4 linked regions of the Homo sapiens genome follow. The protein of the gene in region 1 purifies or fractionates together with the protein of each later gene. This does not show direct contact. Each region holds a gene or a part of one and is shown in the gene's direction. Other genes may lie near its edges. The genes, in order: HMGCL, GLS, MGME1 and PNPT1.

Region 1 (7,026 bases):
AAAGTTACAGTATCAAGACAGGTAGAGGAAAGAGGAAAAAAAAAGTATTGTGTTACTTGATAGGGAAGACTAAGATTTTGAGCTGACTTTATATAGAGGAGACTCAGGGCATTTTGTAAAAACTGTCTTCAGCTACTGGGGGTGTCACCTCCCCTTAGACCCATGCTTGTCATCACCCAGCCTATGACTGTAACAGAAGAGAGCCCTCCTGCATCTCGCCCATACCCCGAAAAGTCCAGGACTGACTACTCCTCCCCACACTCAGTAATTGCTCTCTTCTGGGACAGCTGTGTCCTTCATGGTTTATGTGTTATTTTAATAACTTTAAAGAGTGGCTACTTTGTACCAAACACGGTGCCAAACACTAGGGATGAAGTGGAGTTGAGACAGACAAGGTCCCTCAAAGAGCTTATGTTCTACTGGAAGAGACATTGAGTAGGCATTCTTTATCGTGCTTTGAAGGAAATAATTATAGCTCTGCAATAGCGAAAATAATGGGGGTGGGAGGAATGGCAGCTTTGCAAAGGGTGGTCAGAGGAAGCCTCTCTGCAACTGAAAGATGAGAGAGAGATGTAAGAACAGCCAGTTTTTTTAAAAAAAGCCAGATGAGGAACCCTGGGGCAGAGGGAAGAGAAGGCAGGGAGCTTAGCAACCTGTTGGGTGGAGGTTGGGAGTGGACAGTAGGGGCGAGTGATGATTCCAGGAGGTCAGAGGAGGCAACTCATACAGTCTTTTCTTTTCTTAATTGGAAAGCATCAAGTGACATATAGAGTCATTTAATTTTTTTTTTTGAGACAGGGTCTCGCTCTGTTGCCCAGGCTGGAGTGTAGTGGCACAGTCATAGCTCACTGCAGGCTCAACCTTCTGGGCTCAAGCGATTCTCCCACCTCAGCCTCTTGAGTAGCTGGGACTACATGTCCATTCCACCACACCTGGCTAATTTTTCTATTTTTAGTAGAGACGGGGTTTCTTCATCATGTTGGCCAGGCTGATCTCGAACCTCTGGCCTCAAGTGATCTGCCTGCCTTGGCCTCCCAAAGTGCTGGGATTACAGGCATGAGCCACCGTGCCTGGCCTTTTTTTATTTTTTTTGGAAATGGAGTCTTCCTCTGTCGCCCAAGGTGGAGTACAGTGGCACGATCTTGGCTCATTGCAACTTCCACCTCCCTGGTTCAAGCAATTCTCCTGCCTCAGCCTCTTGAGTAGCTGGAGTTACAGGCGTGCACCACCACACCCGGCTATTTTTTGTGTATTTTTAGTAGAGATGGGGTTTCACCATGTTGGTCAGGCTGGTCTCAAACTCCCGACCTCAAGTGATCGCCCGCTTCGGCCTCCCAAAGTACTGGGATTACAGGCATGAGCCACTGCCCCCCGCAATACCTGGCCTTTTTAAACTACTTCTAACATACATACAGCAGCATACAGAGTCCTATAGGCCATGGTGAATAGGTGAAATGGCTCAATGAAGTTCTGGCTTATGCAGTAGGGTACATGCGATGCCTTTGACAGAGATGGAAAGGATGGAGTCAGATGGGCTTTAGGAGAAATTAGAGTTCTGTTTCGGGACTGCTATATGAAGAGATGCGAATAGAGCTGTCAGGTAGGCAGTGGAAAAGGAGTCTGGACTTCAGGGGAGAACCGGTACTGGAAGGATGAATCTCTTGCTTGTTCCTGTTACTAAGTGAAATATTCTTTTTGTTCTTAATTCTAAAATAGACCAAATGTGAATTAAATGGTGAGAAATATTTCTTCTTGTCTCATTATTAGTGAAGATAGATCCATTCTTTCATATTGGTCTCCCTGGGAATTGTGGCAATCTCTTCCTCATACTTTTTGTTTCCTCTTTTAAACCAAAGGTCAGCACCTCATCTATGGGCACTTTACCAAAGCGGGTGAAAATTGTGGAAGTTGGTCCCCGAGATGGACTACAAAATGAAAAGGTAAAGTTGGAAATGAGCCAAAAAAACAGTTTTTTCAAGCATCTGCTTTGAGTATTACGTGTGATAGGTGCAATGGCAGTTGACAGAGCTATGCAAGATGTGATTCCTCTGCACAAGTTAGGGGAGAGTAGAGGAGGCCAAACAGGGACAGACACCTGTGACAGTTAAATGATCTAAAATGGTGGGGCAAGCTGGATGGGTGGCTCATGCCTGTCATCCCTAATTACTTGGGAGGCTGAGGTGGGAGGATGGCTTGAGCCCAGGAGTTTGAGACCAGTCTGGGCAATATAGCAAGACTCTATCTTATTAAAAAATATATGTATATATATAAACTGAATGGTGGTGCAACAGGTTTGGTGTCCCCAGGTCCACAGCCCAGTGGGGTGGGGTAGACCCAGCAATTCCATGTAAGGGGATTTATCCAAAGCAAGTCACGAAGGCCAAATGTAGAGATTTAGCCTTGGGGGTGTTCCTTACAAACCTGTTTGGTAAGCACAGAACAGTTGGAAACAACTTAAATATTTAGTATGAGGAAAGTTGGGTCAGATACACTATGGACTTTTTATAAAATGAAATATTATGAAGCCATTAATAACATAGGTATATATAAAGTGACTCAAGCAGTTTATAAAATAGTACATGTGACTGGGCATGGTGGTGGCTCATGCCTGTAATCCCAGCACTTCAGGAGGCTGAGGCAGAGCACGATTCTGTCTCCAAACAAAAACAAATAGTGCATGTGCGCGTACGCACGCGCGCGTGTGTGTGTGTGTGTTTTTGGGAGATGGCATCTCACTCTGTCACCCAGGCTGGAGTGCAATGGCGCAATCTCGGCTCACCTCAACCTCCTCCTCCCGGGTTCAAGTGATTCTCCTGCCTCAGCCTCCCGAATAGCTAGGATTACAGGCCCCTGCCACCATGCCCAGCTAATTTTTGTATTTTTAGTAGAGATGGGGTTTCACCAGGTTGGCCGGGCTGGTCTTGAACTCCCGACCTCAGGTGATCCACCTGCCTCAGCCTCCCAAAGTGCTGGGATTACAGGCATGAGCCAATGCGCCTGGCCATGTATTTTTTAATCTTAACACTTTTATGTAAGAAAAAAGTTTATATATGTATGGGAGCATTTATCTAGACTAGGACCTAGACCAGCACTTTCTGTGAAGATGGAAATATTCTGGACCTGAGCTTTTCCATGTGGTGGCCACTATACCCATGTGGCCCTTGAGAACTTGAGATGTGACTAGTGTGGCCAAGGAATTGTATTTTTATTTTTATACAATTTTTATTAAATTTAAATAACCACATGTGACTAGTGACATATTGGGCTGCACAGATCTAGAAAGTTACACACCAGGGTGTTAATAGCGTTATCACTGGGAGATTCTAAGGGTGGTTTTCTTTTGTTTTTGGCATGTTTTTCTGAAAGAATCATATATTGATTATTTTTTCAATAAGAAAAGCTTTTTTCTTTTTCTCTTTTTTTTTTTTTTTTTTTTTTTTTTTAGCACGTCCATCCTAGCTTTAATAGTGAGTGCTTGTTGGAAACAATAGTGTGTAAGTTCCCGAAGGGCAGAATCCTGTCTGTTCTGCTTCTGCTTACTGCTATATCCCCGGCACCTAGCACAATGCCTGCAACATGGAGGGCTTTCAAAAATTATTTGACAGGCTGGGCATGATGGCTCATGCCTGTAATACTGGCACTTTGGGAGGCTGAGGCAGGCAGATCACCTGAGGTCAGGAGTTTGAGACCAGCCTGGCCAACATGGTGAAACCCCATCTCTACTAAAATAAATGAGCTGGGGTGGTGGCATGCTTGTGTAATCCCATCTACTCTGGAGGCTGAGGCAGGAGAATCGCTTGAACCCGGAAGGCGGAGGTCGCAGTGAGCTGAGATTGTGCCACTGCACTCCACTCTGGGCAATACAGTGAGACTCCATCTCAAAAAAAAAAAAATTTTGTGGAAAGATTAAGTTAGAGCAGTGGGAGAGAAACTGGAGAAGGCAGGCAAGGGGAGGACCTAGCGAGAAGGACCTGGAGTATTTTTGTGTGTTCTTTTTGTTTGAGACAGGGTCTTGCTCTGTGTCACTCAGTGCAGTGGCACAATCATTGCTCACTGCAGCCTCGACTTCCCAGGCTCCAGTGATCCACCTCAGCCTCCTGAGTAGCTGGATCACAGACACGTGCCACCACGCCTGGCTAATTTTTGTATTTTTTGTAGAGAGGGGGTTTCGCCATGTTGCCCAGGCTGGTCTCAAACTCCTAAGCTTAAATGATCTGCCTGTCTCAGCCTCCCAAAGTGCTGGGATTACAGGCGTGAGCCAATGTGTCCGCCTGGACCTGGAGTTCTTAGAATTTTTTGCGTAATCCTGTAAATATTAGGGAGCCATAGAAAGCTTTTGATGCAAGAGAATGGAAGGTTGGAAGCTGCATTTTAGGAGGATTCCTGTGTAAGATGAATTAGTGGCTTGAGACTATGCCATGTTATATACAGGATAATGATGGTAGATTTGGAAAGAGGAATCCATGGAATCTGTTGAGCTACTGGACATGGTGGGGAGGAAGATAAAGAAGCTATACGCTGAACACATGAGGCTGAAGTCCTATGCCAATTGGGAGACAGAAGCGAGGAGGGTGTGATACTTTGGGGGCCCCATCCCATACTCCCCAGAGGGTTAGTCATCTCTGCCCTTTCAGGCCATCACACATTGCTCTCAGTTTGTTTATGATGGGATTATAAATTAACACACATTTACTTACGGGAAAGCCTGCATGGCAGAATAATGTTTCTATGTAAATAACTCCTTTTCAGGTGAGAAGCTGCATCCACTGCAAAAAATTATCTATAGTACTTGAACTAACAGGTACTGCATTTTGAGGCTGTTTTGTTACTAACTTTGCTGCCTTGGTGTTTCTCTCTCCACTATAGAATATCGTATCTACTCCAGTGAAAATCAAGCTGATAGACATGCTTTCTGAAGCAGGACTCTCTGTTATAGAAACCACCAGCTTTGTGTCTCCTAAGTGGGTTCCCCAGGTGAGCCCTAGCCCTCAATGAAAGGCCTTTCTCTAGGGATGAAAAGTTTTGCATTTGCCTTTGAAGCAAGTAGAAGTTGAGAACATAGGTTTCCAAGCCCCTGGCTTTGAGAGGTCTCAGGTGATTCATAGCACTGTGTTGCAGCAAAAGAACATGACCCAGGATTCAGGGCCTTGGGTTCAGTCTTGGCTCTGCTCTGACTTGCTCAGTGACATTGCTAAGGCCTTCCCCTCCTCAGTGTTAGAGATGACCTCTTCTAGCCCTAAAGTCTAAAACCCTCTATGCCTGTCTGTGGTTTCTTTGTTTGTAAAAGAGGAAGACTGACAACTCCTGCTTCACAAAGATAGTTAAGTGAAGAAGAAACATCCTGTTACAAAGGAGTGCTTAACACAGAGCTGAGCTCAGTGCCTGGCCCAGAGTACATTCTCAATAAATGGCTGGTAGTAGTATTCCTGCTGTTTCTGCATATGTAAAGCTGGCAGTATGGGCCATATGGAGAAATTGGGATCTCAGCCAAACCAAGGGCCCTTCTGAGCCATCAGCAGTCAAACAAACAGTAAAAGTATTGGAGAGACTCAGCTCTGCAGAAGGAATTACTCGCTAAGAGTTCTGGAGAACAGAGGTTTTGTGATGAAAAGGTTTTCTCTAACTGAACTCTCTGTCTGCTCTTGGTGATGACTTGGCAATGTCTCCCTTGGTTCCTAGATGGGTGACCACACTGAAGTCTTGAAGGGCATTCAGAAGTTTCCTGGCATCAACTACCCAGTCCTGACCCCAAATTTGAAAGGCTTCGAGGCAGCGGTAAGAGGATAGCTTGTTGGTGGGGGCTCCTGAAATGAGATTGATGGCATTGGTCCCTGCCTTGTCTTGGCGCCTCAGTCCCCTGTCCTGGGATGTCCATCTGAATAGCTTGTCTGTCAGCCAGACCCTGGGGCAAACCTGGCCCTGCCACTCACTGCTCTGTGATCTTGACAAGTTGACAAGCCTATAAAATAGGGCTAAATGATAGTACCTGAAGTTGTGAGCATTTCAGAAGATAGGATGCATGTACATTGCTTAGCAAGAGCCAGATAAAAGGTAACTGCTTAATAAATGTTAGCTCTTTTGATTATCCACTTCTTTAGAGAAATGTAACCAAACTCTCCACAAGAGTTTCAACAGTAGTTGCTGGCATCTGCCAACTTTCTTACAATTTTAGACAAGAACATCTTTGGAGGCGTTGGTTCTGTATTTAGGCAAAAACCTTTTTTTGGCTGGGCACAGTGGCTCACACCTATAATCCCAGCACTTTGGGAGGCTGAGGCCGGAGAACAGCTTGAGGCCAGAAGCTTGAGACCAGCCTGAGCAACATAAGGAGACCTTGTCTCTACAAAAAAAAAAAAAAAAATCAATTAGCTGGCTGTGATGGCATGCACCTGTAGTCCTAGCTACTCGGGAGACTGAGGCACAGGATGGCTTGAGACTAGGAGTTCGAGGCTGCAGTGAGCCATGATAATACCGCTGCACTCTTCCAGCCTGGGTGACACAGCAAGAAAAAAAAAAAAGCTTTTTCTCAAGAGTGACTTCCAGGGTGGTGATGGCAGTGGTGGTGGTTTCCTTGGGGAAAATCAAAGTTTTTTTTTTTTTAATTAAGAGAAATTACTGTGTTTGTTTCCTAGTGCTACTGTAAGAAAGCACTACAGGCCGGGCGCGGTGGCTCACGCCTGTAATCCTAGCACTTTGGGAGACCAGGGCGGGCGGATCATGAGGTCAGGAGATCGAGACCATCCTGGCTAACACGATGAAACCCCGTCTCTACTAAAAATACAAAAAATTAGCCAGGCTTGGTGGCAGGTACCTGTAATCCTAGCTACTCAGGAGGCTGAGGCAGGAGAATCACTTGAACCCGGAAGGCGGAGGTTGCAGTGAGCCAAGATCATGCCACTGCATTCCAGCCTGGGTGACAGAGCAAGACTTTGTCTCAAAAAAAGAAAAAAGAAAAAAAAAAAGAAAGCACTACAAATTGGGTGGCTTAAAAACAACAGAAATTTATTCTCTCACAGTCTGGAGGCC
Region 2 (7,026 bases), on another chromosome or scaffold:
CATGTGACCTAATTTTAGTTACTGATCCCTAGTTTCCTTATGTGTAGTATATGCGTCACCTGCCTTGCCATATTATGTGGAAGATAACATGAGATGATATGTGAAATTCCTTTGAAACTAGCCTTTTTTTTCCCCCTGGTCTGTATGAATTTTTTCCGTAAGTTTCTTTTCCTTTGGAATACATATTTAAATTTGGCTGTTATAGAATCTACTGTAATGTGACATTTCTATACTTCATTGCAAAAATCAAGAAACAGCCATAGAAGTGGTACTGACTTTTTTGGAGAAGGGCTGCATCAAATTGAACGGCCATTGAGATTAGCAGGAGAGTACCCGAGTTGGCATTTGGCAAATTAAGAATGTGCTGCCTTATGACAAACAAAATTCCAATTAATGTTAAGTATAAATTAGGAAATGATCATTGGAATTCAGAAAGCCTTGCATGATTAAGTCGACCTTATCACAAATCTTTGCTATCTGGGGCAGTATTGCAAGTCGATTCTGTCGTTTTTGAGAAATAGGGAAGAGATTTTTTATATAAATAGGCAATGTAGTCAAAGTTAAACACACAATGTTCTAATTCACTGTACTTAGTTTTCCTCCTTGCTATTTCCAAACCCCTTTGTGCCTCTTGTAGATCTTGGAGTATGGCTGAGGAAAATTTATAAGTTGAACTCATTCTTCTCCTATCCACTTTATTTTTTGACCCCGTCTCATCCCAATTTTGCTTACTATTAGCTAAAAATAAAATGTGGAAAAATTTATTTTCATTTTATGGGTAAATTTGGGTTTGGTACGGTGAACTATTTTCATTATTTTGATTGTATTTAAATGCAAAAATTTTATCCTAGAGGGTATTCTTAGCACCCATAGTAAATATCAAATAAATATTAATAAATGGTCTAAAGGATAACATTTTGGTTTAGGCTTACAGAGCATCTGAGACAGATCTGCTTTATATTTTTCTTCCCCTTTTTCCTTTGCCTGTTACCATATAGATGGGGATGCCGAACTTTGTTATGGGTGAAATGTCAGGCACTGTAGCATTTTTTTCTAAAATGGTGATTTCTCATGTAGACACTATCATAATCTTCATGTATGGTGCTTTATCTTAAAAATATTTCATGGCTCTTTTTTTTTCTGTTGAGTTAAAAGTAATTATGCTTGTGTATTCCACAGAAAGTATTAATATTTAAGCAAATTTGAATATCACATGGGATAATAACAAATCTTAGTGTTTAGAGGCTGGCACTTCCTAGTCTAGTTCTGCCATTAAAAGACTGAGTATCTTTGGCCAAATCAGGGTAAATCTTAAAAGTGGGTAGGACTTCGGTCAACTAAAATCTTCAGAATGTCCTCAAGTTTATATTAAAGTAATCTCTTTGGAAGAAATATTTCAGATCTGTATGAAATACCAAATAAAATAGATTATCTTAAAAGTGAACAGTAATATTAAAAGTAGTATGAGAATTCTGCTTTTTCTTTGTGTTAGCTGTGCTCCATTGAAGTGACTTGTGAATCAGCCAGTGTGATGGCTGCGACACTGGCTAATGGTGGTTTCTGCCCAATTACTGGTGAAAGAGTACTGAGCCCTGAAGCAGTTCGAAATACATTGAGTTTGATGCATTCCTGTGGCATGTATGACTTCTCAGGGCAGTTTGCTTTCCATGTAAGTAATTGTTTAATCTTATTTTCTCTGGCAAGAAACTAGTCTGAACTGGTTCTTTTAAAAATGCAGTTTGAACTTTGCTTCTAAAGCTGTATATTAATTTTTGAGAGAGAGGCTTGTTTTCAAGGTTAATTTGTTACAAGATTAGTAAGGAATAGAGATAAGGTCTACCAGATGTTCTTAAGAACTTGGAAGTTTGATTTATAGAACCTCATCCCTTCTGCTTTTAAGGCAATCCAGTGTACAAGGTTAGTACAGTCTTTCTTTACTTTTTGTTTTTAATGTTTAGCATTATGATTATGTATCTTAAGAATTCTCTAAGTTCAGAAAGATTGCAAAGATGTGACGTTTCACATCTTTGGTTACGGCCATAGCTGTTTTAAGGACTAAAAGTGTATTAAAGTTAAAACTTAACAAAAATGTACTGCTTTAAGCTCTGTTGTGCATTTGCCACTTGTAAAGTATATAGACTTTTTTTATTTCATTCTGCTCATGTCAAGTCATAATGCCCTTCTAAAAGCTTTTTTTATTTTGGAAATTTTCAAACATGTAAAACGAGAGAGAGAGAGAGATACATTTAATGTTATCCATCACTCAGCTTCATTAATTATGAATACATTACTAATCTTGTTTCATCTGTATGTGCATCTGTTTCCCCTATCCTTGTCATATTTCAGTATGTAATTCTAAATAAGGATCCTTAACAAAACATAACAATAATACAGTTTTTACATATAAAAATTAAATATTACATATCAAAACTTTAATATCATTATTAATATCAATATTAAATTGAATATCAAAATATTTAGTTAGTGTTTAGATTTCCTGGATTATCTTGTAAATTATTATTTCTTTTTTTTTTTTTTTGAGACGGAGTTTCACTTTGTTGCCCAGACTGGAGTGCAGTGGCACGATCTTGGCTCACTGCAACCTCTGCCTCCTGAGTTCCAGCGATTCTCCTGCCTCAGCCTCCCGAGTAGCTGGGATTACAGGCGCCTGCCACTGCACCTGGCTAATTTTTGTATTTTTAGTAGAGATGGGGTTTTGCCATGTTGGCCAGGCTGTTCTCGAACTCCTGACCTCAAATAATGCACCTGCCTCAGCCTCCCAAATTGCTGGGATTACAGGTGTGAGCCATTGCACCTGGCCTATTATATTATTTTATAGTTTGTTTGACTTAGGATACAGATGAGGTGCATACATTATGATTGGGTTTTGTCTCCTTTTTTTTTTTTTTTAAATCTATTGGTCTTCTTTTGACCTGTCTCTCTTTTTTTCTTGTTATTTTTGGTTGGAAAAACTGGGTAATTTAGTCTATACAGTTTTCCACTGTCTCTACATTGCTGATTACCTCTGTTCCATTGTCCCTTGTATTTCCTATAAATTTGTAGATCCAATTCAGGTGTGTTTTTTTTTTTTTTTTTTTTTTTTGGTCTGCTTGTTTTGTTTAGTTTTGTGTAAAAGTACTTTATTGGTATACTTCTTTTATTTTTGTTTGTTTATTTATTTATTTATTTTGAGACAGAGTCTCACTGTGTCGCCCAGGCTGGAGTGCAGTGGCGTGATCTCGGCTCACTGCAACCTCCATCGCCTGGGTTCTAGCAATTCTCCTATCCAGAGGTACTGACTGACTGAATGTTAGTAAGCAATTAATGAACACTGCTCTAATGACATTAATTTTTTTTTTTATCATTTGTCAAGTTTTGCTAATGTAACTTAAATTTTTTGAGGAGGAGTAATTTAAATTACCATTTTAGAAAATCTTTTAAGAATATATAACTTTTTATTGTTTTCTAGTTGTAAAATATTTTTAAAAAATAATTTGTTATATTTAAAAACAATACGTTTATCTTAGAACAATTAGAAAATATAGTCAGGAAGAATAAAAGCATCCATAGCCTCACAATTTAGATGTAACTGCTATAATTCCTTAGAATGTATCTTTAAACAATTTTTCTATATTCATATCTATCCCAAACTGTTTCATAATTTTTTTTTTTTTGAGATGGAGTCTTGCTTCGTCACCCAGGCTGGAGTGCAGTGGTGCGATCTTGGCTCACTGCAACCTCTGCCTCCCAGGTTCAAGCGATTCTCCTGCCGCAGCCTCCCGAGTAGCTGGGATTACAGGTGCCTGCCACCACACGCGGCTAAGTTTTGTATTTTTTGTGGAGACGGAGTTTTGCCATGTTGCCCAGGGTGGTCTTGAACTCCTGACCTCAGGTGATCTGCCCACCTCGGCCTCCCAGAGTGCTGGGATTACAGGCATGAGCCACCGCACCCGGCCTTATAACTTTATTTATAAACATGTTGATAAAAATTTATCTACAATATTTTTAATGTTGAAATTCTATGGTATGTATATATATATATTTTTTTTTTCGAGAGGGAGTCTCACTCTGTTGCCCAGGCTGGAGTGCAGTGGCATGATCTCAGCTCATTGCAATCTCTGCCTCCCGGGTTCACCTTTCTCCTGCCTCAGCCTCCCGAGTAGTTGGGACTACAGGCGTGCACTTTGGGAGGCTGAGGCGGGCGGATCACAAGGTCAGGAGATAATTTTTAATTTTTAAACCAATTTCCCAATTGTGTTTTTTTTTTTTTTGAAACTGGATCTTGCTCTGTCATCCAGGCTGGAGTGCAGTGGTGCGATCATGGCTCACTGTAGCCTTGACCTCCTGAGGTCATGTAATCCTCCCACATCATCCTCCAGAGTAGCTGTGACTACTGGTGTGCACTTCCATGTCTCACTGTTTTTTGTAGAGACGAGATCTCCCTGTGTTACCCAGCCTAGCCTCCAACTCCTGGGCTCAAGTGATCTGCTTGCCTTGGCCTCCCAAAGTGCTGAGATTACAGGAGTGAGCCATGGTGCCCAGCCCCAGTTTCCCTATTGTTGAACATAACATTTCTTATTTTAAAATGTTTACCTGAATACTCTTTTACTGAATTATTTTTAGGTTGGTCTTCCTGCAAAATCTGGAGTTGCTGGGGGCATTCTTTTAGTTGTCCCCAATGTTATGGGTATGATGTGCTGGTCTCCTCCTCTGGATAAGATGGGCAACAGTGTTAAGGGAATTCACTTTTGTCACGTAAGCATATTTTCTTAATGTAAATAATGGTGTTACAAGTTGAGCCATCCAATGATTCTTTTTTTTAACCCATTTTCCATAGTTCATTAACTCTTGGCCCTCCGCCTATAGTGTGCCAGTTACTAGGGAGCCGTGGAAATACTCCCAGAGGAGCTTCAAGTTGTCTCTGTCAGACAGCTCCCATTTAATTATTCCCACAGATTATATTTGTTAGATGCTAATATTTTAATTTTCATGGTTATAATTAGTATGAATTTTCAAAAGCTCAACAAAAGGTATTAAACTTGGAGAAGTAATTTAAAAGCCAGTATATCTTAAGAATTATTTTGGTTTATTATATCTTTAATCTGCATGGTTAAATATCTTTATCCATTGACTACCTTTAAACATTTTTTTGAGGAAATAAGCACTGAAAATTAAAAAAAGATTAAACCATTTTTAAACTGTTACTGCTCTTGATAGTTCTGTATTTTGTTGTTACCCAGTTCCTGCTAATGTTTGAGCTTCTAGTTTTAGTTACATTGATTACTTGCTTGAGTTCATATTAAGTACCATACTCAATTAAAATTGTTTTATTTTCCAGTCTTTTATATTTTACAAAAACTAGAGTATGACCTTGGAGTGCATATAAAATATAGTAGATTGTAACCAGAGTACTTATTTATATTTTAATGTGGCTTTACACTTATTTGATAGAAGAATTCTTTCATGGGGCCGGTTATAAACCCTATTTTGTAGAAGATGAAAGATGATTTGATTGGCTGAGCCCTAGGATCATGTTAGTAAGCAGTGTTCTTAAAACTTATATCCATATCTTACTCTGATTTTAGTTCTCTTCTTGATGCATTATACTACTTTATTAGCATGTAGTGATGATTTCTAGGCTGGACGATATAAGCAGAGTTTGTTAAAATATGGATATATATAACCAATGAATAGCCAATTTCTTATACCTGCTCTGTATAACTGTTTACAGGATCTTGTTTCTCTGTGTAATTTCCATAACTATGATAATTTGAGACACTTTGCAAAAAAACTTGATCCTCGAAGAGAAGGTGGTGATCAAAGGGTAAGCAAAATTCTTATTTAGATAAGTATATAAAATTTTTAAGAAGAGAAAAAGTGAGATTTGCCTGTATAAATAAAATCTTAGTTTGTTAGTGGCCTCGGGTCTTTGCTAATCATAAATGAGTGTAAACAAATTGTTGACATATAAATCCGGGATCACCAGTATTAAATACTTAAAGATTGTTTAATAGATAGTTAATAGATACAGATATTTAAATATTGCTGTTTTGTTATTTAAATTGAAACTAGTTAGCCTAGTGTCAGGGATTTCCCCTTCCATTTTCTGCTATTTTAAGCAAGATTTTTAGAATTGATTCTGTTAAAAAAAGAACAAAACAAAACATTGGAATGTGCTGCATGCTATAAAGAAAGCATCGTTTTAATATTTGTTCGTCCTAAATTGAAGTTTAACTTCTTGCATACTGTGTAGATGGATATGTAAATGGAAAAGGATTATCATATTAGTGAGAGACCGTATGAAGCCTCAAAAGTTTTATAAGTCACTGTAGATGAAATATTTTTTTCCACCGTGTTTAATGCAATATTCCTAATAATCTTACGGTCCTATTTGTTTGTTACGAGTTTATTTGGCTTCATACTATTGTACACATATATTCCTTTTTTTAGAAGTAGTATTAAGAGTCAGGACTTAACTTTTTTGGTCTATATAGTTTTTCACTGTACCAAGGGGCTTGTGCTGAGAATTTTGATTCAGTTTCTTTGCGTACCATATTGAAAATGTTTGTAGTAAAATTACCTAATTAGACCTCAAGATAATATGAAGAACTTCTAAGTAGAAAATATTTTTAATACATACTAAGTACATTTTCTGTAGTGCTAAACTAAATTTTTGTTAGTTTTTATCAAATTAATTTCTGTTACTATGTAAGAATTATGCAAAACCAACAGAATAGAAACTTCCATGGGAGTCGACCTGAGTAACATGAAGCAAAATGTCAGAGGTGGTGGTTTAAAATGTTAACATTTTAATAATGCTCATTGAAAAATACCATTTTATAGCTTGGACCTTTCTTCACTCAAGTGCACTAATAAATTATGTATGTTGCTTGAACAACTAGCATTCCTTTGGACCATTGGACTATGAAAGTCTCCAACAAGAACTTGCTTTAAAAGAGACAGTATGGAAAAAAGTGTCACCTGAGTCAAATGAGGACATCTCTACAACTGTAGTATATAGAATGG
Region 3 (6,958 bases), on another chromosome or scaffold:
TTCGCAACAAGCACACAAAGACTAGCTTCTGTAACACAACCTGACCCCACCCATATCACACCATTTTAGAAGGAAGTCCGTTTAAACCAGTGATTCTCAAACAGGCAATTTTGACTTCTTATCACCATGGGAGGGGAGGAGGCCGCGTCCTAGCAGAGGCCAAAAACAGTTGCTTCACATCCTACAACCCAGAGGGCACTCCTCAACAAAAGTGATCAGGCTAAAATGTCAACAGTGCTCCCCAGGTTGAGAAACTGAATTTTAAACTCAACCTCTAGTTTAGATGACCACTAGGTCTCACCGAATGAGGAGTTTACAGCTCAGAAACAAATCTAGAAAACTTAACAGCCTTGGCCAAGCACAATGGCTCATGCCTGTAATCCCGGCATGTTGAACTGGATGGTGAAACCCCATCTCTACCAAAAAATACAAAAATTAGGTGGGCATGCTGGTGTGTGCCTGTAGCCCCAGCTACTCAGGAGGCTGAGGTGGGGGTGATCACCTGAGCTCCCCAGGTCGAGGCTGCAGTGAGTTGTGATCGTGACACTGCACTCCCGCCTGGGTGACAGAGCCAGACCCTGTCTCAAAAAAAAAAAAAAAAAAGCCTCTTGGCCATTTCTACCTATGGCCAAAATAATGTGAACAGATAATGACCTTTTAGAGTATTCACAAATGGGGATCTTAAGACACCGAGTACAAGTTACTGAACTAGAACTAAGGCGTGGGAAGCTTGATACGTCATACTTCCTCAACTTAGAAAATAGTTGCAAGGGTAGCATAAAGCTTCAGTCCACAAAGTTTGTAAGTTTGGACTTGCTATGGTATTGGTCAAAGTTCAGGATTGTTCCTATACTAACCAACTGCACTCCATTCTAGCTAATGGAGAACAAAAATACCCCTAGAGGCAGCTTCCACACCAGTTAAACACGAAACCAGAGCAGCAGTACTTAGTCTACAAACACTCCTGAGTAGGTAAGAGGACAGATATCATTCACCAAAGTCCCTGTAACCAAGCAGTAAGTTAAGGCCAAGTTGTTACTGTCAAGGAAGGAGAACCCCCTAGTTAAAAATAGCACTAGGCTGCGAAGGTCGAGTTCAAATACCAGCCTGGCCAACATGGTGAAACCCGGTCTCCACAAAAATACAAAAATTAGCCGGGCATGGCGGTGAGCGACTGTAATCCCAGCTACTTGAGAGGCTGAGGCAGGAGAATCGCTTGAACCCAGAAAGCGGAAGTTGCAGTGAGCTGAGATCGAGCCATTGCGCTCCAGCCTGGACGACAGAGCGAGACTCCGTCTCAAAAAAAAAAAAAAAATCAAAAACCAGTAAATAGAGGACCAGTTAGGAACCAAATTAACCATGCATCTCTTCCCCTGAACTATTTTCTGAGGAAGAAGGCAAACCCCAACACCCTCGGCTAAAGAATGTAACAAAATGCCAGTGTCTGGCTACCAGACACGACTGACACAGTATTCCCTTTCAGTTTTGCTGAATTGGCCAAAATGAGTATTGGGCTAGAATTCAAAATCCTGAAGAATCAAGTATGTCCCCCTACCTTAGTGAGTCTTAATTAACTCCATCCTTAGGGAGAATTCCAAACCAAAGTAAATTATCAGGAGGGCATTTAAACAATTTAAGTAACACACATTTCAGGTAACACACAAAACATTTCAGTTGACTACCGAAATTGTATTATGGCAAAAAGTTGCCCAAGACTTAGTTTCCCATTATTTCATACTTGCCCCAAACTCCCTTTCAGTTAACCATAACACCATCTAGGCCAGACCACAGCAGGTTATCAGCATCAGCAGAGATCAGAAAACAAAAATAAAGCCACGCGTCAGGGTAATTATTTATTTTTATTGTCTCTTTATTCCTGTAATGTAAAAAGGAAAACAATGTCATGTAACTCTCTTCGCTACAGATACGGACAGTTTCTGTAGCCTCTAAAACAGGCAGGAAATGGCCTTCATAACCATTCTCCAATTTTGCTGGAGGATCAGGGTGGTGGAAGTCATTTTAAAAACCAGCTGCAATATACTGTACTACCAGAGAGTGGGGTGAAGCAATTGAGTCCTTTTACCTAGCTGACTCCGAATCAAGACAGCTAAAAGAATGTACCAGAAAGAAAGAAAAAATAAAATGCTACCAAAATCCCAATCCATTATCTACCCTTTATGGAGAAAAGTACCTTTATAATGTTTTACAAAGAATCGTGGTCTCAAGTTTCCACTTTGTTTTAGTAATAAAGAACTTTCAAAAAAAAAACCACTCTAAACAACACCCTCCTGTATAGAAAGCTCTATTTTAATAATTAATGCAATGATACCCTTGTTGGAACAATCCAGCCGCTTTGAAACTCTGGTATTTACTTACTAGATGAACAAGTTTCTCTATGGAGGTGCCTTTAACTTCTCAAGAAATGTGTAAGTTAAGACGGCTCCAAATTACATTTTAAGAGAGCCTTGTATTTTTAGAGGTTCTTTTTCATCGGTCAGAAAAACTTACGTTGACGATTCTGCAAGAAAGGTTGCTCGCAAACCATGCATCGCAAAGCTACCGAGGCAAATTTAAAGAACCAATGAAAAAGAGTGGAGGCTCGTCTGAATCTTTAATTGGCTATGGGAATTTCAATTTATTGCATAAATAATCTTTTAGACCTCAAGATACACGTGACCTAGGGACAGTTTACATCAATGGGCAAGACTTAAAAATAGACACCAAGTTCAGCAAGTATTTGAGCACCTACTAAAAATTACACAACTCCCACAACAACGCATTTTGCGTTTCTAAAGTTGTAAGCAGCATGTTCGGACGCTTGATGCAATTTCCCAAGTTGTTTGGGCCCCCCCCCCAAAAAAGTCTTCTCAGTAAAAGGTGGGGGGAAGGAGGGTATTTTGGGGGCAACAAACCAAACTGGTCTGTCGCATGTTAAGTCAATTTCACGTTCACCTACTGGTCACCACGAAGCCGAGGAAAGTTTTAAAAAGAACATTCCGGGGTCTCCAGAGATCATCTCTCCAAGTCCGCTCGGCACCGGCGCCTGAGCTGGGGCTAAGGTCCCGCGTCTCTGGTTCTGTCCTAATAGAATCCGGGACATCCACAGGGATTCCCCGGGGCAGCCTTCAGTGAAGACCAGGGAGAGGGGCCGCCCGGGTCTCACGGGTGCTTCCCGCGCTGGGGATGGCGGCGAGCAGCCACGGCCTATGGACGCGCAAGGGAAAGAATGCAGCGACCCCGGAGCTCGCAGGGCCGCCCGCCCAGGAGTCTGAGGCTGGGAGGACCTCACCTTGCTGCGGTCCTCCTCCTGCTGCTGCAGCAACTCGGGAACCGCGGCCATGGCGACGCGGGACTCGAGCAGGGGCCGCCTGGCTGTGCGAGGAAAGAAGAAGCTGGGCCGCCGCCGCCGCCGCCTGGGCGCCTCTCGGGGGCGGCCACGGCCCCGCCTCCGCCGGCCTCCCTGCCCGACGGCGGCAGGAGGCCTCCGGACTCCGCCACCATCCCAGCTGCCCCGGGAGCAGGCGAGCAGGGCGCCACGTGCTCCCCCAGAGCAGCCTCCCAGTCCCCGCTGCCGTCCATCTTGGAGCCGGGCAAAGACGCCACGTGGGGCCTACCCTTGCTCCGCTCCACGAGGAGGCCGCCAACCGCAGGGCCGCGACACGGACGGGAAGCAACGGACACTCTCCCAGCAAGACGCGTCTAGAGAAAGACCGCGTTTCGGTGCGGGGGGAATTTATTACTCAGCCCGAGTCCAAGATGGCAGCGAGCGCTGACGTCACCAGATCTCGTGAGAGCAGAAGGGCGCGATTTGGAGGCTCCCGCGCTTCGGAGACGCCGGCCCTTCCGCTCGGAGAGGTACTCCCTGCCTCTAACTGGTGGCGCGTTGGCGGAGGCCGACGAAAGCCTCGGGTGGGGCGTGAGCGCCGCGGGGCATTCTGGACCTGCTTTGCCTTAGGCTGTGCCTAATTCGAAACCAAAGCGCGGGACGGATGAAAGTACGGGTCGCGAGAGGTTGTTCGCGCCTTGAGAGTTAAGCGAAGTGTGGTGGCTTCCAAGGTACCGACACTTGCCGTAGGCTGGGCTTTTATTTAAGTCGTCTTTTCTCTAATCCAGACTCCTGCCACAGGGGCCACCGCCGTCCTGGCCCCGCCAGGGGTCCGCACCCACGGCGGAGCGGGAGGCGACTTTTTGCGGTCACAGTAATGGGACCTCAGCGCCGCCACCAGCTCTGACCGGCGAGCGACGGGACCCTCCAACCCGATTTCCACGTCTGTGCAACGGGTTCATTCTAGACCCACGGTAGAGGGTGTGAGGACCAAATGAGAAGTATCCACACAGAATACTTAGCAGAGAGCCTGGTGTCTAGGAATTAGTCGTCGTCTGTCACCTAGGACTGTGTGGCCGCCATGGGACGGGCTCCATCTTTGTGTTTTTCCGTGTCTCGCACACGCCTCCCTTCCTGGGCGTCACATTCCTGCAGATTAGAAACTGGGACGTCTTGCCTCAAGCTGTCTACTAATTCGCATTTAGTATGTGTCGGTCCTTCGGGTATTGAGTCTTGATTTATTTATAAATTTTTTTTGGAGGCAGGGTCTCGCTCTGTCGACTTTCTTAAGAAAGGGCTCTGTCCAAACATGTCGAAAAAGTTCACAATTTTGATGTGCAATATCATTCTGATGCAGCTTTCGCTTTGATGGTTGTTTTCTCTCCAATAGGAATACAAACATAAAGGCCTTCGACCGTTGCAAATAGACTAAAGTGAAAACAAATCTGAATGAAGATGAAGTTATTTCAGACCATTTGCAGGCAGCTCAGGAGTTCAAAGTTTTCTGTGGAATCAGCTGCCCTTGTGGCTTTCTCTACTTCCTCTTACTCATGTGGCCGGAAGAAAAAAGTGAACCCATATGAAGAAGTGGACCAAGAAAAATACTCTAATTTAGTTCAGTCTGTCTTGTCATCCAGAGGCGTCGCCCAGACCCCGGGATCGGTGGAGGAAGATGCTTTGCTCTGTGGACCCGTGAGCAAGCATAAGCTGCCAAACCAAGGTGAGGACAGACGAGTGCCACAAAACTGGTTTCCTATCTTCAATCCAGAGAGAAGTGATAAACCAAATGCAAGTGATCCTTCAGTTCCTTTGAAAATCCCCTTGCAAAGGAATGTGATACCAAGTGTGACCCGAGTCCTTCAGCAGACCATGACAAAACAACAGGTTTTCTTGTTGGAGAGGTGGAAACAGCGGATGATTCTGGAACTGGGAGAAGATGGCTTTAAAGAATACACTTCAAGTAATTATCTCAATTCTGATTCTATATGTTTGCTATGTTTTCTATAATAGAGAGCAACGGTGTCAAAAGAATGAGGTTTGGTTTTGTTTTTTTAACTTACTAGCAAGGAACTCCCTTCAGATAGTAATTAACATTAAATAGCACTTTATGTGTATTAACTCACTTGATCCTCATGGTAGTCCTGTGGAGTATAGATACTGTTATCCACATTTTACAGATGAAACTAAAATAGATCAAATATTTGACTAAATAATACATAAAATTCACTTGTTTTATAAGCTACCAACAATATTAGAATTGCTTGTTTTCCTTGATTATTGAAAAAAGTCACCTGGTAACAGAATTCTAGTTGTTTGCTAGATAATTCTGTTTAGAATCCAGTAAATACCCACTGTCCTACTTATTAGCGTAAACTGACTCGTAAATTTAAAGACCTTGAAGCAGACCAGAACACATGACCTATATTTAGACCTTGGTAAACATAATCAGAGGTTCTTCATAAGGATCTGAGGATAAATACACTTTAACCTTCAACTTCTAATTTACTAACTTGGACAAGTGAGGAGAATAGCTTCCTTAAATTTAATATTCCATTCAAAAACAAAGACCATTGGCACTGGTGAATTAGCTAGTCCCATAAATTATATAGGGGTCTTTTGTTAAAGGAAAGTTTCACATCAATCATTCCTTTACCCAAGCTTCCCAAAGTGCAGTACATGTACTCTTAGTAGTACACAAACTCTTTCATTTTTGTTTTAAGAATAGTGTACTGACCCTTGCCATAGCCTGGGCTTCTATTTAAGTCGTCTTTTCCCTAATCCAGACTCCTAAAACTATGCGTGTAACACATTAAACATGTCACATGTTCTAAAGAAAAATACTAAGTATATATAGGTGGTATTGGATATGTACCAAATGGTCAAGGCCTTTGCTCCTTATAATATTCCTCAGCTGTGTGGGGCAAGGATTATATATGCAAGAGCTAACTGCCTTCCTAAGATAGTTAATTAGTAGCAACCACCAAACTATTGTCTGCTTTCCAAGCAAGCAACATAAAAATCTTCTAATGGCATCTTACAGTTTTGTATTTGTACCACTAAAATTTAGAATTGATAGTTTTCTCATGAGAAGTTATTTTCCTTAAACCAGGAATGTACAGCTGAAATTACTAATAAGAAATGTATTATTAAAAGGCAGAAACCTGCTGGAACACATGGGACCCCAGGGCCTGTAGCTCTTGGCACAAAGTAAGGAAGTGCACCAGAGAGGAATTTCTGTTTGGAATGTGAATGAGCCCCAATAGCCCAGGCAGAGAGAAGACTGGTTGTTTTTTTTTTCATAGAGTCAGCTTTGTTGATCTAGATTAGCACTCAGCTGTGTTTCTCAGTTAACTCAGTAGCAACCTTAAGAAATGAGCAGAATCGCTTACCCCAGCACCCCGCCCAGACTTGACCGCCGGGACCCAAGTGATTCTCCCATCTCAGCCTGCTGAGTAGCTGGGACCACAGGCGTGCACCACCATGCCTGGCTAATTTTTTTATTTTTTGTAGCGACAAGGGTCTCCCTATGTTGCCCAGGCTAGTCTCCAACTCCTGTCTTCAAGTGGTGCTCCCACCTCGGCCTCCCAGAATACTGAGACTACAGGTGTGACCCACTGTGCCCAGGCAGAATCA
Region 4 (7,026 bases), on another chromosome or scaffold:
AGCCAATTTCAGTCTCAAAGCATTTTTTTTGACCAGCTAGAAGAGCTTGTTTTTTTAGGATAAGAAAATCCCTCTTTTAAGAAAAAGGAAATTATCAAATGTAGCAAAAATGTTCAAAGCTATTTGAAATAAAATAAAAGGCAAGGAGATAATTTGTTTAATATTGCAGGTGAAAAATAAGAAATGGGATGGCTTATTTTCATAGATTAGAGAAAAAAGGGAAGATTAGTTTTTTAATGAAATAAGTATTCCATTTTACCTGACCACCTTCCTTAAATCCTTACCTTACAGGTTAATCATATGAGATTCTATACTATTTTTAAAATATTTAATGTCATTTCGAAAATTTTTGGAAAATCGAGACCAGCCTGGCCAACTTCGTGAAACCCCATCTCTACTAAAAATACAAAAATTAGCTGGTCATGGTGGCACATGCCTGTAATCCCAGCTGCTTGGGAGACTGAGGCATGAGAATGACTTGAACCTGGGAGGCGGAGGTTGCAGTGAGCCCAGATGGCACCACTGCACTCCAGCCTGGGTGGCAAAAAAAAAAAAAAAAAAAAATGTTTTTGGAAATTGTTAAGAGAAATACAGAAGAACATATATTCTAAAAGTTTTTTTTGTTGAGACGGAGTCTCACTCTGTTGCCAGGTTGGAGTGTAGTGGCACGATCTCGGCTCACTGCCACCTCCGCCTTTCGGGTTCAAACAATTCTCCTGCCTCACCCTCCTGAGTAGCTGGGATTACAGGTGCGCGCCACCAGGCCCAGCTAATTTTTATATTTTTAGTAGAGACGGGGTTTCACCATGTTGGCCAGGGTGGAGTTGATCTCTTGACCTCGTGATCTGCTCACCTTGGCCTCCCAAAGTGCTGGGATTACAGGTGTGAGCCACCGCACCTGGCTCTAAAAGCTTTTCTATTGCATGTTTTTTCTTTATCTTTTCTTCATTCTTTGATTCACACATATTTATTTATAGGGTATATTTTCAGTTGAAAAGTATACTTTTTATAGTTCTAAAAACGTGCTAGAATTGTTTCTTTTCGTTTTTTACTTTTTCCTCATATGAAAACAATGTTTTATTTGTCAATGGATATACAGATACTTATTATTTTAACCAGGCTTACTATTTATTTTTTTGTAGAGATACTGGTGTAATGGTAAAATTATATCCAAATATGACTGCGGTACTGCTTCATAACACACAACTTGATCAACGAAAGGTAAAAAGACAGATGTTATTGTTATTATTTTTATAACTGCCTTGAAACACTGTATTGAAATTACCTAGGTTGGTAAGAATTATACACTTTGCCTACTACTAGCCTAAACAGAGAAAACAAGTGGCAGAGATGCTGCTGGCAAAAAGTTTTACATTGTTTAGCATAAAGAAAAATTGGCTGGGCAGGGTGGCTCATGCCTGTAATCCCAGCACTCTGGAAGTCCGAGGCGGGTGAATCACAAGGTCAAGAAATGGAGACCATCCTGACCAACATGGTGAAACCCAGTGTGTACTAAAAATACAAAAATTAGCTGGGCGTGGTGGCGTGCGCATGTAGTCTTAGCTACTCGGGAGGCTGAGGAAGGAGAATCGCTTGAACCCGGGAGGCGGAGGATGCGGTGAGCCAAGATTGTGCCACTGCACTCCAGTCTGGCGACAGAGTGAGACTTTGTCTCAAAAAAAAAAGAGTGTCTGTTTTACCATATATTAAAATATATTATAAAGCCATAGACAATAAAATAGTATATTACCGGCCCAGAAATAGATAATCCATGCAACAAGAAAACAAAAACTAGAAATAATATACATGGGATTATAATATACGCTAGAAGTTGTATTATAGTCAGTGAATAAAGATTATTTAATAAATTATATTGGTACAGCTGGTTATCTTAAAACAGGATCTCTACTCATTTTTATACCTAAATCCTGTCTGGATCAAAGAGCTAAATGTGCTTTTTAAAAAAGGTGGTAGGAAAAGATAATCTTGTTGGGGCAGGAGGGTTTACTAGAAGAAAATTGGATGTTTTAATAAGATTAGTAGTGGAGAACTCCTCAACATGATATCAAAGCCAAAAAAGTAAATAAACTTACAAAATTTGACCCCATAATTTTTTAATTATATGGCAAAAATTTCAATAAGGTTAAGAGATAATCAGCAACCTAAAGTAAAAATGCTTATATGCAGAAGCTTAATTTACAAAGGGCTTTTATAAATCCGTAAGAATGATGAATATCAATAGAAAAATAAGTAAAGAACATGAACAAATTATTTTTATAAAAAGCCAACCAAGATATTTAATATCAACAGCAATTTTTGAAATGCAAATGAAATTAAGATATCAGTTTTAACTTTCAGATAGTTTAAAATTCTCAGTGTGTATAAGAGAAAAGATGGACATTTTCATACACTGTTGATGGGGGTGTGAATTGGGACAAACTTTTTAGAGGGTGTTTGGTAAATGTCTATGGACCTAGACATTGTAGGATTTTATTTGGAGAGGATAATTAGAGTAGATGAATTCATGATTTGTGCTACACTGCAACTTATTTTTTTTCACCTTATTATTTTGAAAAGTTTTTAATGTACAAAGAAGTTGAAAGAATGATACACTAAACCCTCATATATCTTTCTCCTATATTCATCAGTCATTAACATTTGCAACACTGGAATTTAAAGCAATTTATTGTCTTTAGGTGATTGTTTAAATAAACTATATAGTTTGAAACTTAACGGTAATTCTTAATTTATTGATATGAAAAGATGTCCTTGGGCCAGGTGCAGTGGCTCACGCCTGTAAGCCCAGCACTTTGGGAGGCCAAGGTGGACGGATCACTTTAGGTCAGGAGTTTGAGACCAGCATGGCCAACATGGCAAACCCCCGTGTCTACTAAACATAGAAAAAATTAGCTGGGCATGATGGCGTGCACCTGTAATCCCAGCTACTCTGGAGGCTGAGGCAGGAGAATCTCTTGAACCTGGGAGGAAGAGGTTGCAGTGAGCGGATATCATGCTACTGTACTCCAGCCCGGATGACAGAGCGAGACTCCATCTCAAAAAAAAAAAAAGATGTCCTTAAGATATACAGTAAGCACAGAGGGTCCATTTTTATAAATGCCGTACACATACACTAAGTAGACATCTGAAGGGATACTCATTGGAATGTTAGCAGTAGTTATCTACAACTTGAGAGGGTTTTGAGACAGGGTCTTGCTCTGTCACCCAGGCTGGAGTATAGTGGCATGATCACAGCTCACTGCAGCCTCAGCCTCCCAGGCTCAAGTGATTCTCCCACCTTAGCCTCTGGAGAAGCTGGGTCCCCAGGCACAAACCGCTACACCCGGCTAATTTTTTTGGATTTTTTGTAGAGATGGGGTTTCTTCACGTTGCCCAGTCTGGTTTAAGCAGTCCTTCCACCTCGGCCTCCCAAAGTTCTGGGACTACAGGTGTGAGCCACTGTACCCAGCCTGTTTTGGATAATTTTTATGTTCTTAATACATCTGTATTTTAAATCTTTATAATTAACTGATTTTTTTTTTTTTTTCTGAGACAGAGTCTGACTCTGTCGCCCAGGCTGGAATGCAGTGGCATAATCTCAGCTTACTGCAACCTCTGCCTCCCAGATTCAGGCAATTCTCCTGCCTCAGCCTCCCAAGTAGCTGGGACTACAGGCGTGTGCCACGACACCCAGCTAGTTTTTGTATTTTTAGTAGAGATAGGGTTTCACCATGTTGGTCAGACTGGTTTCGAACTCCGGAGCTCAAGTGATCTGCCTGCCCCAGCCTCCCAAAGTTCTGGGATTACAGCCGTGAGCCACCATGCCCAGCTGATTTTTTTTTTTTTTTTTTGAGACGGATTCTCTCTCTGTCACCCAGGCTGGAGTGCAATGGCGTGGTCTCGGCTCACTGCAAGCTCCACCTCCTGGGTTCACGCCATTCTCCTGCCTCAGCCTCCTGAGTAGCTGGGACTACAGGCGCCCGCCACCATGCCCGGCTAATTTTTTGCATTTTTAGCAGAGATGGGGTTTCACTCTCCTGACCTCCAGAGATGGTCTCAATCTCCTGACCTCTTGATCTGCCCGCTTCTGCCTCCCAAAGTGCTGGAATTACAGGCTTGAGCCACTGCGCCCAGCCGCTAACTGATTTTTTTAATCAGAAAAACTAATAAAGCTTGAGGAAAAAATGTGTACTTCCATGGACACTACATAATTATGCACAACAACTAATAGATTAACATTTTTTTTTCCAGATTAAACATCCTACTGCCCTAGGATTAGAAGTTGGCCAAGAAATTCAGGTATTTGTATTCCACCTTTTAGCCTTGAAGTTGTAAATTGTTCTTGAAGCTTCCATTGTTTTTTTCAAAAAGTTGAAAGAAGAGTCACCATCTATGAAGTTTTTTATTTGTATGCAGTACTTCATTTTTAATCTTAGAATTGCTTGAACAGACTCATTAAGGATTTAAGACACAATTCTTTCCCTCAAGGAGCTTGCAGCTTGGCCAAAATGGTAGTCACCCTTAGTTCGTTTAAAAAATACATGAGCATGTTAGTGTTAGCTATGCAGACTCCATGATTTGGGCACTGACGTAAGAACTGTGATAAGGTAACTTGTTAAAGTCTTTGAATGTCATCTTTGAGGAGGTGAGACTTTGTTTCTCCACTACTTAAAGTTTTTGAGCTTGGTAAGAGCCATGTTATTCAGGCCTAGAATTCATATAACAAAATTGGCCCTTTCTTTGTAGTCCTTTATGAGTGGATGAAAGAAGTCATTGCCAGTCTGTTTTTTCGGGCTCCACCACATTGTCTTTCACTTACGCTAATACGCATGACCTGAGTAACTAAGGCTTCTGGTTTATTCCCAATGTGTAGTCTTATTGTCCAAGTAGCCTCCAGGGGAAGATGAGTGCTAAGATATAGTATCTCTGTATAAGGTTGATTTTTTGGTTTATTTGTTGTTGTTGTTGTTGTTGTTGTTTTCACATCAGAAGGAACTTTAAACCTTTGCATTTGCCCCTGACTTTCATTTTCCAAGGTGAAGCCAAATAAACACTAATGTGTTGGTCCTTTGAGCAGTAGTGAAAATCCAAGTGACCTAAGCATAATCCTCTATAGTATATAACACAATTAGGCTCTCAAAGCCCTTGTCTAGGATCATTCACTATGCCTGTGACTGTTCCCCCAGTATAAGGACTTGGCCTGGTGAGAATAAAAAGGCACAGATGAGTTCAGCGGCAGATTATAGTTGAACAACTAACTGCCCCGTCTCTTTTCTCTTTTATAATGACTACTTATATGTGTTAAGTGTATACGTCCACTTAGCACTGAACAATGCTTTCAGTGAACAAGTAAAAACAATCATTGCCTTATTTGGACCATGTAAATTTAAATGTCTATTAGTTTAGATGTCACTCAATGTGCTGTAACTTTAAAGGAAGATCTGTTTCTTTAACACAGGTGAAATACTTTGGACGTGACCCAGCCGATGGAAGAATGAGGCTTTCTCGAAAAGTGCTTCAGTCGCCAGCTACAACCGTGGTCAGAACTTTGAATGACAGAAGTAGTATTGTAATGGGAGAACCTATTTCACAGTCATCATCTAATTCTCAGTGATTTTTTTTTTTAAAGAGAATTCTAGAATTCTATTTTGTCTAGGGTGATGTGCTGTAGAGCAACATTTTAGTAGTATCTTCCATTGTGTAGATTTCTATATAATATAAATACATTTTAATTATTTGTACTAAAATGCTCATTTACATGTGCCATTTTTTTAATTCGAGTAACCCATATTTGTTTAATTGTATTTACATTATAAATCAAGAAATATTTATTATTAAAAGTAAGTCATTTATACATCTTAGAAAAAATTACATAGTTTTGTTTTTACAATTCTGAAATATATGAAAAACTTAGATAGAATATGTCATATGTTATTATAACAGATCTCTTCCTACATCTTATTTTTCTTCTTTGTATACAGTAGTGACAGTTTACCTTCAGTCATCCTACAGGTCACCTCTGTGCCCAACAACTTTACTTGCCTACAACGGTTCACAAACTGGAACAGGCCATATTCAAAGCCAGTGCCTATTTCTTCAGAACTGTTAACAGATATAGTGAGTTGAGGGAGCTAATCTGATACACTTTTGATAATATAATGCCTTTCAAATTAGTTACCAAATCATAAACAGAGTGGAATAAATATAAATGAGATTCTAACTAGGATGAATGTGGTAGTAATGATGTATATTTTTCAAATTTACCTAAACAGAAAGATTATTGGCTAAGGCAGGCGGATCATGAGATCAGGAGATCGAGACCATCCTGGCTAACACGGTGAAACCCCGTCTCTACTAAAAGTGCAAAAATTAGCCGGGCGTGGTGGCGCATGCCTGTAATCCTAGCTACTCAGGAGGCTGAGGCAGAAGAATCACTTCAACCCAGGAGGTGGAGGTTGTAGTGAGCCGAGATTGCGCCATTGCACTCCAGCTCAGGCAACAAGAGCAAAACTCCGTCTCAAAAAAAAAAAAAAAATTGTTTACTTATCAAATTGAACTAGGTCAATTTGAATATGTGTATTGCTCTAATGTATGGAAGTTCTTAGTATAAGAGCTGAAGGATCATGACTTTCGGTTAATAGATGTTTGAAATAGATGTTTAGAGGTTACTGATACACATGTCAAGTTGTTCATTCCCATCATTTAAAATATCACCTTATAATTCCACAGAAAAGTAAATGGTATGTGGACGTCATAATTTAGAATGTGTAATCTTTTTTAAAATCTTATAAAAATACACTGGACTCAGTGGTACGTGCCTGTAGTCCCAGCTACTTGGAAGGCTGAAGTGGGAAGGTCACTAGAGCCCAGAAGTTCGACACTGTAGTGTGCAACAATCATACCTGTGAATAGCTACTGTACTCCAGCCTGGGCAACATAGCAGGACTCTTATCTCTAAAAAAAATTTTAAATCTTATAAAAATGTAGGTATATCTGGCCAGGCATGGTGGCTCACACCTGTAATCCCAA

The links.
Region 2: the proteins of HMGCL (region 1) and GLS purify together in Homo sapiens (affinity purification with mass spectrometry; 3 studies listed by BioGRID and IntAct, with this or other methods). This does not show direct contact.
Region 3: the proteins of HMGCL (region 1) and MGME1 purify together in Homo sapiens (affinity purification with mass spectrometry; 4 studies listed by BioGRID and IntAct, with this or other methods). This does not show direct contact.
Region 4: the proteins of HMGCL (region 1) and PNPT1 purify together in Homo sapiens (affinity purification with mass spectrometry; 3 studies listed by BioGRID and IntAct, with this or other methods). This does not show direct contact.

Annotation. Positions count from the first base shown.
Region 1 is NC_000001.11:23,815,424-23,822,449, reverse strand, and holds part of HMGCL (hydroxymethylglutaryl-CoA lyase, mitochondrial isoform 1 precursor), read left to right. Parts: intron 1-1,856; coding exon 1,857-1,940; intron 1,941-4,866; coding exon 4,867-4,974; intron 4,975-5,679; coding exon 5,680-5,775; intron 5,776-7,026. UniProt on the Homo sapiens protein: Mitochondrial 3-hydroxy-3-methylglutaryl-CoA lyase that catalyzes a cation-dependent cleavage of (S)-3-hydroxy-3-methylglutaryl-CoA into acetyl-CoA and acetoacetate, a key step in ketogenesis. Terminal step in leucine catabolism.
Region 2 is NC_000002.12:190,925,814-190,932,839, forward strand, and holds part of GLS (glutaminase kidney isoform, mitochondrial isoform 1 precursor), read left to right. Parts: intron 1-1,492; coding exon 1,493-1,669; intron 1,670-4,623; coding exon 4,624-4,755; intron 4,756-5,731; coding exon 5,732-5,824; intron 5,825-6,843; coding exon of another isoform or gene 6,844-6,873; exon of another isoform or gene 6,874-6,902; coding exon of another isoform or gene 6,903-7,026. UniProt on the Homo sapiens protein: Catalyzes the first reaction in the primary pathway for the renal catabolism of glutamine. Plays a role in maintaining acid-base homeostasis. Regulates the levels of the neurotransmitter glutamate, the main excitatory neurotransmitter in the brain.
Region 3 is NC_000020.11:17,965,086-17,972,043, forward strand, and holds the start of MGME1 (mitochondrial genome maintenance exonuclease 1 isoform 2 precursor), read left to right. Parts: upstream 1-3,932; 5' UTR 3,933-4,056; exon of another isoform or gene 4,057-4,529; intron 4,530-4,715; 5' UTR 4,716-4,774; coding exon 4,775-5,285; intron 5,286-6,958. Other genes in the region: SNX5 (sorting nexin-5), read right to left, coding at 3,290-3,340. UniProt on the Homo sapiens protein: Metal-dependent single-stranded DNA (ssDNA) exonuclease involved in mitochondrial genome maintenance. Has preference for 5'-3' exonuclease activity but is also capable of endonuclease activity on linear substrates.
Region 4 is NC_000002.12:55,634,822-55,641,847, reverse strand, and holds part of PNPT1 (polyribonucleotide nucleotidyltransferase 1, mitochondrial precursor), read left to right. Parts: intron 1-1,142; coding exon 1,143-1,221; intron 1,222-4,248; coding exon 4,249-4,296; intron 4,297-5,455; coding exon 5,456-5,611; 3' UTR 5,612-7,026. UniProt on the Homo sapiens protein: RNA-binding protein implicated in numerous RNA metabolic processes. Catalyzes the phosphorolysis of single-stranded polyribonucleotides processively in the 3'-to-5' direction. Mitochondrial intermembrane factor with RNA-processing exoribonulease activity.